2 linked regions of the Homo sapiens genome follow. The protein of the gene in region 2 interacts with the protein of the main gene of each other region in a pairwise test. Each region holds a gene or a part of one and is shown on either strand. Other genes may lie near its edges. The genes, in order: RNF34 and CASP10.

Region 1 (3,817 bases), on a different chromosome or scaffold from region 2:
TGTTTGAGACAGACTCTTGCTGTGTCGCCCAGGCTGGAGTGCAGTGGCGTGATCTCAGCTCACTGCAGCCTCCGCCTCCCATTTCAAGTGATTCTTGTGCCTCAACCTCCCCAGTGGCTGGGACTACAGGCACTTGCCACCACGCCTGACTAATTTTTTGTATTTCAGTAGAGATGGCGTTTCACCACGTTGCCCACGCTGGTCTCGAACTCCTGAGCTCAAGCAATCCGCCCACTTCAGCCTCCCAAAGTGCTAGGATTACAGGCGTGAGCCACCGCGCCGGGCTGGTGTTAAGTTTTTAAATACGATACCTGGTTTTTAACTGATATAAGCCAGGCAGACCATGGTCCTATGGTGGCTCTACTGAGAGCAGCTTTGGCTTAAGAGAGTGGGTAGGAAAGGGATTAGACTATCAAGAACAAGTCATTTATTTTTAGTAATCACTGATGACTAGAAAATAAACTCCAAACACAGGTGAATTCTCTGAGCTTGGAGTTTTGTGCTAGGCATAGGCAGACAGTTGCCTCATTCTCTTATTCTCTATGTTGTTTTAAACTACATTCATGGTCAAGAGAGGAAATTTAGCTATCTTCACGATTATCGTTCTTTTTTAAAAATATAATTTCAACTTTTAGATTTGGGGGTACACGTACAGACTTGTTACATGGGTATATTGAGTGACGCTAAAGTTTGGGGTACAGTTGGTCCCGCCAGCAGGTAGTGAACACAGTACCCAACAGTTAGTTTTTCACCCCTTGTTCCTTTCCTCCCTCCTTCCCCCTCCCCCCAGATTATTGTTCTTTCTAAACTGTTAGAAAAAGGGTTATACTTCTTACATACCACTTGGATGCATGTGGTATAACCCATGGAGTTTTGCTGCCAACTAAGGTCCCCAAGTAGGTCATGAAAGCCCAGATCATGGCTTGCATTTTGAAAGTTCCAGACTTTTCAGAGATCTGGCTTTGGGCTTTATTCACGGAGGAGTAACTGTAGGGTTTTTTTCCCCCAATGAACAAATAATGGATGGTGACCCTTCCATAAAGAAGGCACCACTTTGGAATTGAGGCCAGTGAATTGACTGCAAATTCAGAAGCCAAAAGGGTATGCCTAGTATACTGTCAGAAGCCAGAGGTGGGGGTATGCCTAGTATACAACAACTCAGTGAATTGACTGCAAATGCAGAAGCCAAAGGCATATGCCTAGTATACAACAACTCAGTGAACTGACTGCAAATTCGGAAGCCCAAGGGCTACGCCTAGTATGCTGTCTTTCCAGGAATTGAGTTTTCTCAAAATCTAGGAGGAAATGGAGTGGTTTGTAGAAGATGCTTCAATCTTACTATCAGTATGGAAGCAATGAATGAATAAAAGAAAAATAAAGGAATACAGGCTAATTTAACTGGAGGAAGATCTTAAAGTATAGGGAAGACAGAAATGGAACAGGAAAGAACATGAACTTAGGTCTCTAAAGCTTTTAAAAGGAGGGTGCAGAAGAGGGATCCTTGTTGGTTATGACCCTACCGGATATGGTAACTGGGTTCCAAGGAAATATAACAGAGGCAGAGTGTGAAGAGCTCAGAAAATAGATTGGCATATGTTCCCCCCATCCCTTGTCCCCCTCTCCACTGTAAGAGCTCAGATTCAATAAACCCTTGGGGAAATTGTCTTTTAAATAGTTCTCCAATTGCTTTTATAGGTTCTGTCAAGTCATAACAGAAAATGTGGGCCAAGCGTGGTAGCTCATGCCTGTAATCCCAGTGATTTGGGAGGCTGAAGCAGAAGGATCCCTTGAGCCCTGGAGTTTGAGATCAGCCTGGGCAGCATATCAAGACCCCGTCTCTAAAAAAATAAAAATAAATGGCCAGGTGTGGTGGCTCACGCCTGTAATCCCAACACTTTGGGAGGCTGAGGCAGGCAGATCACCTGAGGTCAGGAGTTCGAGACCAGCCTGGCCAACATGGTGAAACCCCGTCTCTACTAAAAATACAAAAAATTACCAGGGTGTGATGGCAGGCACTTGTAATCCCAGCTACTTGGGAGGCTGAGGCACAAGAATCACTTGAACTCAAGAGGCAGAGGTTGCAGTGAGCCAAGATCATACCACCGCACTCCAGCCTGGGTAACAAGAGTGAAACTCTGTCTAAAAAATAAAAATAAAAATAAAAATAAATAAAAACTAGAAAATGTGTACAGATTTAAGAGGGGAAAGATCAGTATAGGACACTTCAAGCACTGTTAGGTGAGTGTCAAGGTGACAGTTGTAGGTAGAGATGCCTTTGCCCTGAGGAGGCATGCAGAATAAATTTCTGAAATTTATGAGAAAGTACAGGAAGATGAAACATACTAAAGGAGAGCCAGGTAGATGGAGTCCAGGCTTGGAAGGATTTATCTTCTGGATGGATTCTTCATCCTGGAGGTGAAGAAGGACAAAAACACTTTGAACAATGGCTGCTTTTGATAGACCCAGAAATCACTGACTTTCTCCTCATATTGGGAGATTTCACACAAGAAAACGTGCAGAGGAGTTAAGGTGGGAAATAAAAGTTGGGGCCCAAAGGCAAAGAGCAAATAAAATCAAGGAGAGCACCAAAGTCCAGCAAAAGTTACAGGCCAATCTGTGGTAAAAAGGAAAGGGATTCATTGAAGAATCAGATTGTTAAAAACTCAGGTGACCCTTTCTTTTTTTTTTTGAGATGGAGTCTTGCTCGGTCACCCAGGCTGGAGTGCAGTGGTACAGTGGCGTGATATCTGCTCACTGCAACCTCCACCTCCCAGGTTCAAACGATTCTCCTGCCTCAGCCTCTCGAGTAGCTTGGACCACAGGCGTGCACCACCATGCCCGGCTAATTTTTGTATTTTTAGTAGAGACGGGGTTTTACCATGTTGGCCAGGCTGGTCTCAAACTCCTGTCCTCAGGTGACCTGCTGGCCTCGGCCTCCCAAACTGCTGGGATTATAGGCATGGACCACAACACTTGGCCAAAACTTAGCTGACCCTTTCTTAAAGGATTGGGTAAAACCAAAGTGGGATGCAAAATACTACATATCCCACAACAGAAAAACATGTAGACAGGTCTTGGGGAGTATGTTGCCGAGGCATTAGTTCCAGAACTCTAGGGCCACAGGCTTCCAAAGTAACCACAGCCCTTTCCACTCAGGAATTTGTGGAGGGTGATGTCCCAGCTGAAACAGTGTAGGCAGGAAGAAGACATCTTCCCTTTGACTGAGCAGGTCTTAAGCTTTTAACCTGGCCTGTATATCAGAATTACCCAGGGAGTTTTCAAAAAAATTCTGGTGCCCAGGCTGCACCACAGACCAGTGAAATCAGAACCTCTGGGCCTGGGACCCCAGGAATCAGTATTTTTAAAGACTTGCCTGGTGAGTCCAACATGCAGCCAAGGCTGAAAACCATTCTCTTAAGGGCAGTTTCACAACCCTAGGCAATTCCTTAGCAAGAAGTACTGACAGCAGCTACGAAGGTACAGGACTAAAACACCTGTTTCACTGAAGGGCAGCGGGGGTGGGTGTTACCTGGCACTTCAGTGCTAAAATGAATGTAAAGAAATTATGTTCATGGCCAGGCGTGGTGGCTCATACCTGTAATCCCAGCACTTTGGGAAGCCGAGGCGGGCGGATCATCTGAGGTCAGGAGTTCGAGACCAGCCTGACCAACATGGAGAAACCCTGCCTCTACTAAAAATACAAAATTAGCCGGGCATGGTGGCAGATGCCTGTAATCCCAGCTACTAGGAGGCTGAGGCAGCAGAATCGGTTGAACCTGGGAGGTAGAGGTTGCGGTGAGCCAAGATCGTGCCATCG
Region 2 (3,817 bases):
AAGGGATATGATGGCTTAGCTTGGGCTCAGAGGCCTGACAGGAGGTTTTATCAACAGCATTTTGTCCAACTGAACTCAGAGTCAAGAGCTGGCCTTCTGCTGCGGTAGACATCACGAACCAGTGAGGGAAGAATTAGATCTTACTCAGAGTATGTCAGGGGTAATGCTAGTGCTGAGTTGCCGCTAATAAAGTCAGCTGGAATTACGCACAAAGGAACTTAAGTCCTGCTATTTCTGTTGCAGTTACAACCGGAAGACCCTACCACCTAAAGGCATTTATATGCACCTCAGCACAGTTAGATTTAAATAGATGCACACATAGGACACATTCTTTTTCGTCTTCCCAACAGCTAATGTTTTCTCTACTTTACAGACAAGGCTGAAAAAAGCTAGCTTGATTTAGTTAGTGTCTCTGAGCAAAGGAATCAGGACAAAATGGAAATGCAGGGCTTTGATCTCCAGATCCTTTGCTCTTTCCTCAGTATCTCACCATCCTTCACTTGCCTTCACATGTCAGTTCTGCCAACTGGACAAGGACTGTGACCACTAGCTTTTGGCCCTGACTGTTATGAACACGGTTTTGGGAGATCATCCTGACACATGTGTAAGAATTAAAGAAAGAGGAAAGAAACATGAAAGGTGGCTTGACAGCCAAGGACAGGTTTATTTTAGAGAAAACAAATTTGAAAGGGGCTTCTGGCCGAGTTAGGTCAGAGCCCACTCACTTACAGACTAAGAGTTTTTAAGGATTTAGGGTGGGAGAGTTTATCAGAGGCTTGGATTGCTTCTATGTCTCTTTGCTGTGCTTATCTGGGAGGGAGAGTTGTGTGTCCGTTCCCATACAATATTTCTGCAGCTGTAGGTACACCCCACCCCCCTCCAGTCTGCTTTTAGCTTCCCCACTTAGTGCACCTGAAGGGAAAGGAATGTGCTTATTAAGGCTCATTGTTTTCCTGGAACCCATTGTATGAAGGCAAAGTTTGGCAGTTACCCAAGAGACTTCCCCCACCCCCCCACCTCCCTCTATGCCAGAGCTGTCTTATCTGTATTTTACTCTCTTCTCTTTCTGGCTGCTCGCTGTTAGAAAAGAAGTGATTTCCTTGAAATGCATGAGGCTAGAAAGGGAACTGGAACTTAAAGTGGCGGTGTTTGTCTAAGATGACGGTGTTCCTGCCCTGTCAATATAGATTAGACATTCCCTCTGTCAAGCTACATTCAAATCCACATGACAATCAGAGATATCAGAACAGTGTTCTTGTGAATATTCTTATAACAAATTTACTGTACATGAATTTGACTTTCACATAAATAATTATAAATGCAGGCACCACTGAGAGTTGTTGTTCTTCATTCCTTGACATTTTTTTATGAGCATTCACATATCAAATGAAACACTCCTAATGCCCTTCCACGCCCCAAGGCATTCCAGTTCACCTGGCTGAAGTCAAATCCAGTAAATGAGGACTGTGAGCAGGTTGTTCACATCCCCAGGCCTCAGCTGCCTCATCTATAAATGAAGGCGTTAACCACAGGACTTTGGATCTCCCTATGAGGGCTCACCTTTAAGGATTCAAAATACAGTTCCAGGAATTAACAGAGAAAAAGTTCCTCTAGAAATTGAAAAAAAAAAAAAAAAAAGCTCAAGTACGTAAAAATGCTCAAAATCTTAATGAAGAAAGCATCAAGGCGTCCTTACAGAGCCACTCCCTTCAGGCAAGCCAGACATCCCCTCTGCCAAGAAGAGCCCAGTGATCCTGAGAACAGCTTCAGTTTCTGACACAGCCTCTCTCCTCATGCCTTGGGCCAGAGGAGCAAAGTGTAGTAGCAGTAACAAGGTGGGGACTGTCCACTGCAGTCTACTGCATCTGCCAGCCCTGAGGACATCCGGCCAAGAGAAAGGTGCTGGCCTGTAGATTGAGTCCTGATTCAAGCTTTGCCTGAAGCCAGTGTTATCCACTCCTGGGTTTCAATGTGAAAGAGGCAATAAATTCCCTTCTTTGCTTCAGTCAATTTGAATTGGGTGTTCTGTCAATGGCAACTGAAATGTTCCAACCCCAATATTGAATTTTTTTTTTAAACAAGGTCTCGCCCTGTTGCCCAAGCTGGAGTGCAGTTGTGTCATCTTGGCTCACCACAGCCTCTGCCTCCTGGATTCAAGAGATTCTCCTGTCTCAGCCTCCCGAGTAGCTGGGATTACAGGTGCTCGCCGCCACACCTGGCTAATTTTTGTGTTTTTAGTAATGATGAGGTTTTGCCGTATTGGCCAGGCTGGTCTCGAACTCCTGACCTCAAGTGATCTGCCTGCCTTGGCTTCCCAGAGTACTGGGATTACAGGCATGAGTCACCGCACCCAGTCCAAAATGGAATATGACATCAGGTTGTAAAGTTTCTGCTTGCAGAGCAGCTGAGTGTAAATGAGCCATCATCTTCCTACAGGGAAACCTGTCTCTAACCAAATAAAAACTTCCTATGTGAGCACCTTCCTTACACAAAAGCAGGAAATGGGCCTGGCATAGACCAAATTTTCACCTCACTAGATGTGCAAAAGAGAAGTCTTAGGAAGGGGGAGATCAGAGAGAGGGTGGGTGGACTGTGACCTCACTGTCCAATGTTTAAGGGCATGCAGAGGGGACACAGAATTATAACTAAGGGGTAGTTGTCTAGAGAGGCAATCTAAGCTCAATCTAGGCTAAGAACGTGGTTTTTGAACACCAAGGAACCTTAAAATGCACCTGGTCCCCAGGCCAGGCACAGTATTTCATGCCTGTAGTCCCAGAACTTTGAGAAGCTGAGGTGGGAGGATCGCTTGAGCCCAGGAGTTTGAGACCAGCTTAGGCAACATAGTGAAACCCCATCTCCACAAAAAAAATAAAAAGTTAGCTGTGCATGGACACACACCTGTAGTCTCAGCTACTTGGGAGGCTGAGGTGGGAGGATCGCTTGAACCTGGGAGGTCAAGGCTGCAGTGAACAGTGATCCCACCACTGCACTCCAGCCCAGGTGACGGAGTGACTCTGTCTCAAAGAAAAAGTACCTGCACAAACCAAAGCCAATTACTCTGTCTTCAGAATAGACATCCAAAACCAAGGCTACAATCCAAGTCTTCAATAATGAAAGTTTTCTGGCCAGGTGTGGTGGCTCGTGCCTATAATCCCAGTATTTTGGGGACAGAGGTGGGAGGATCACTTGGGCCTAGGAGTTTGAAACCAGCCTGTGCAACAAAGTGAGATCCCTCCATCTCTACAAAAAATAAAGAATAAAAAAAATCCGGGCACGGTGGTACACACCTGTGGTCCCAGCTACTTGGGAAGCTGAGGCGGGAGGACAGCTTGAGCCTGGGAGGTCGAGACTACAGTGAGCCGTGATTGCCCCCCTGCACTCCAGTCTGGGTGACAGAATGAGACTATCTCCAAAAAAAAGAAAGTTTTCTAACATTTAGACTTGCAAAAGAAAAAGAAAATCAGAATTGACTGTGTCAGAAAACACGGTGTTTCCTGTTTCTAGAATGACAGGTGGAGACCACCGATTCCTGTGCTGGGCAGGAGGCTGGAGGTTATAGCCAATGATTCGTTTGAGGTCTAAGAACCAACAAAAACTCTCTGCTATAATGAAAGTGCATCCAGGGGCACAGGGAATACTAGTTTTTTCCTTAGTGTGAAAGCAGGCTGGGGCATCTGTTTCTTTGTTCCCTGTTTGTCCACTCTTCGACTCACATCATCGTTGACAGCAGTGAGGATGGATAAGATGTCTTCATGTCTGCAACAAAGAAGAAAACAAAATTTTTTTTTACGGAGTCTCACTCTGTCGCCCAGGCTGG

Evidence for each region.
Region 1: the proteins of CASP10 (region 2) and RNF34 interact in a two-hybrid assay, tested with the Homo sapiens proteins (one study listed by BioGRID and IntAct).

What each region holds. Positions count from the first base shown.
Region 1 is NC_000012.12:121,406,301-121,410,117, forward strand, and holds part of RNF34 (E3 ubiquitin-protein ligase RNF34), read left to right. Parts: intron 1-2,160; exon of another isoform or gene 2,161-2,175; coding exon of another isoform or gene 2,176-2,409; intron 2,410-3,817. Other genes in the region: KDM2B (lysine-specific demethylase 2B), read right to left, coding at 2,176-2,409. UniProt on the Homo sapiens protein: E3 ubiquitin-protein ligase that regulates several biological processes through the ubiquitin-mediated proteasomal degradation of various target proteins.
Region 2 is NC_000002.12:201,217,527-201,221,343, reverse strand, and holds part of CASP10 (caspase-10 isoform 1 preproprotein), read right to left. Parts: intron 3,757-3,817; coding exon 3,603-3,756; 3' UTR 1-3,602. UniProt on the Homo sapiens protein: Involved in the activation cascade of caspases responsible for apoptosis execution. Recruited to both Fas- and TNFR-1 receptors in a FADD dependent manner. May participate in the granzyme B apoptotic pathways.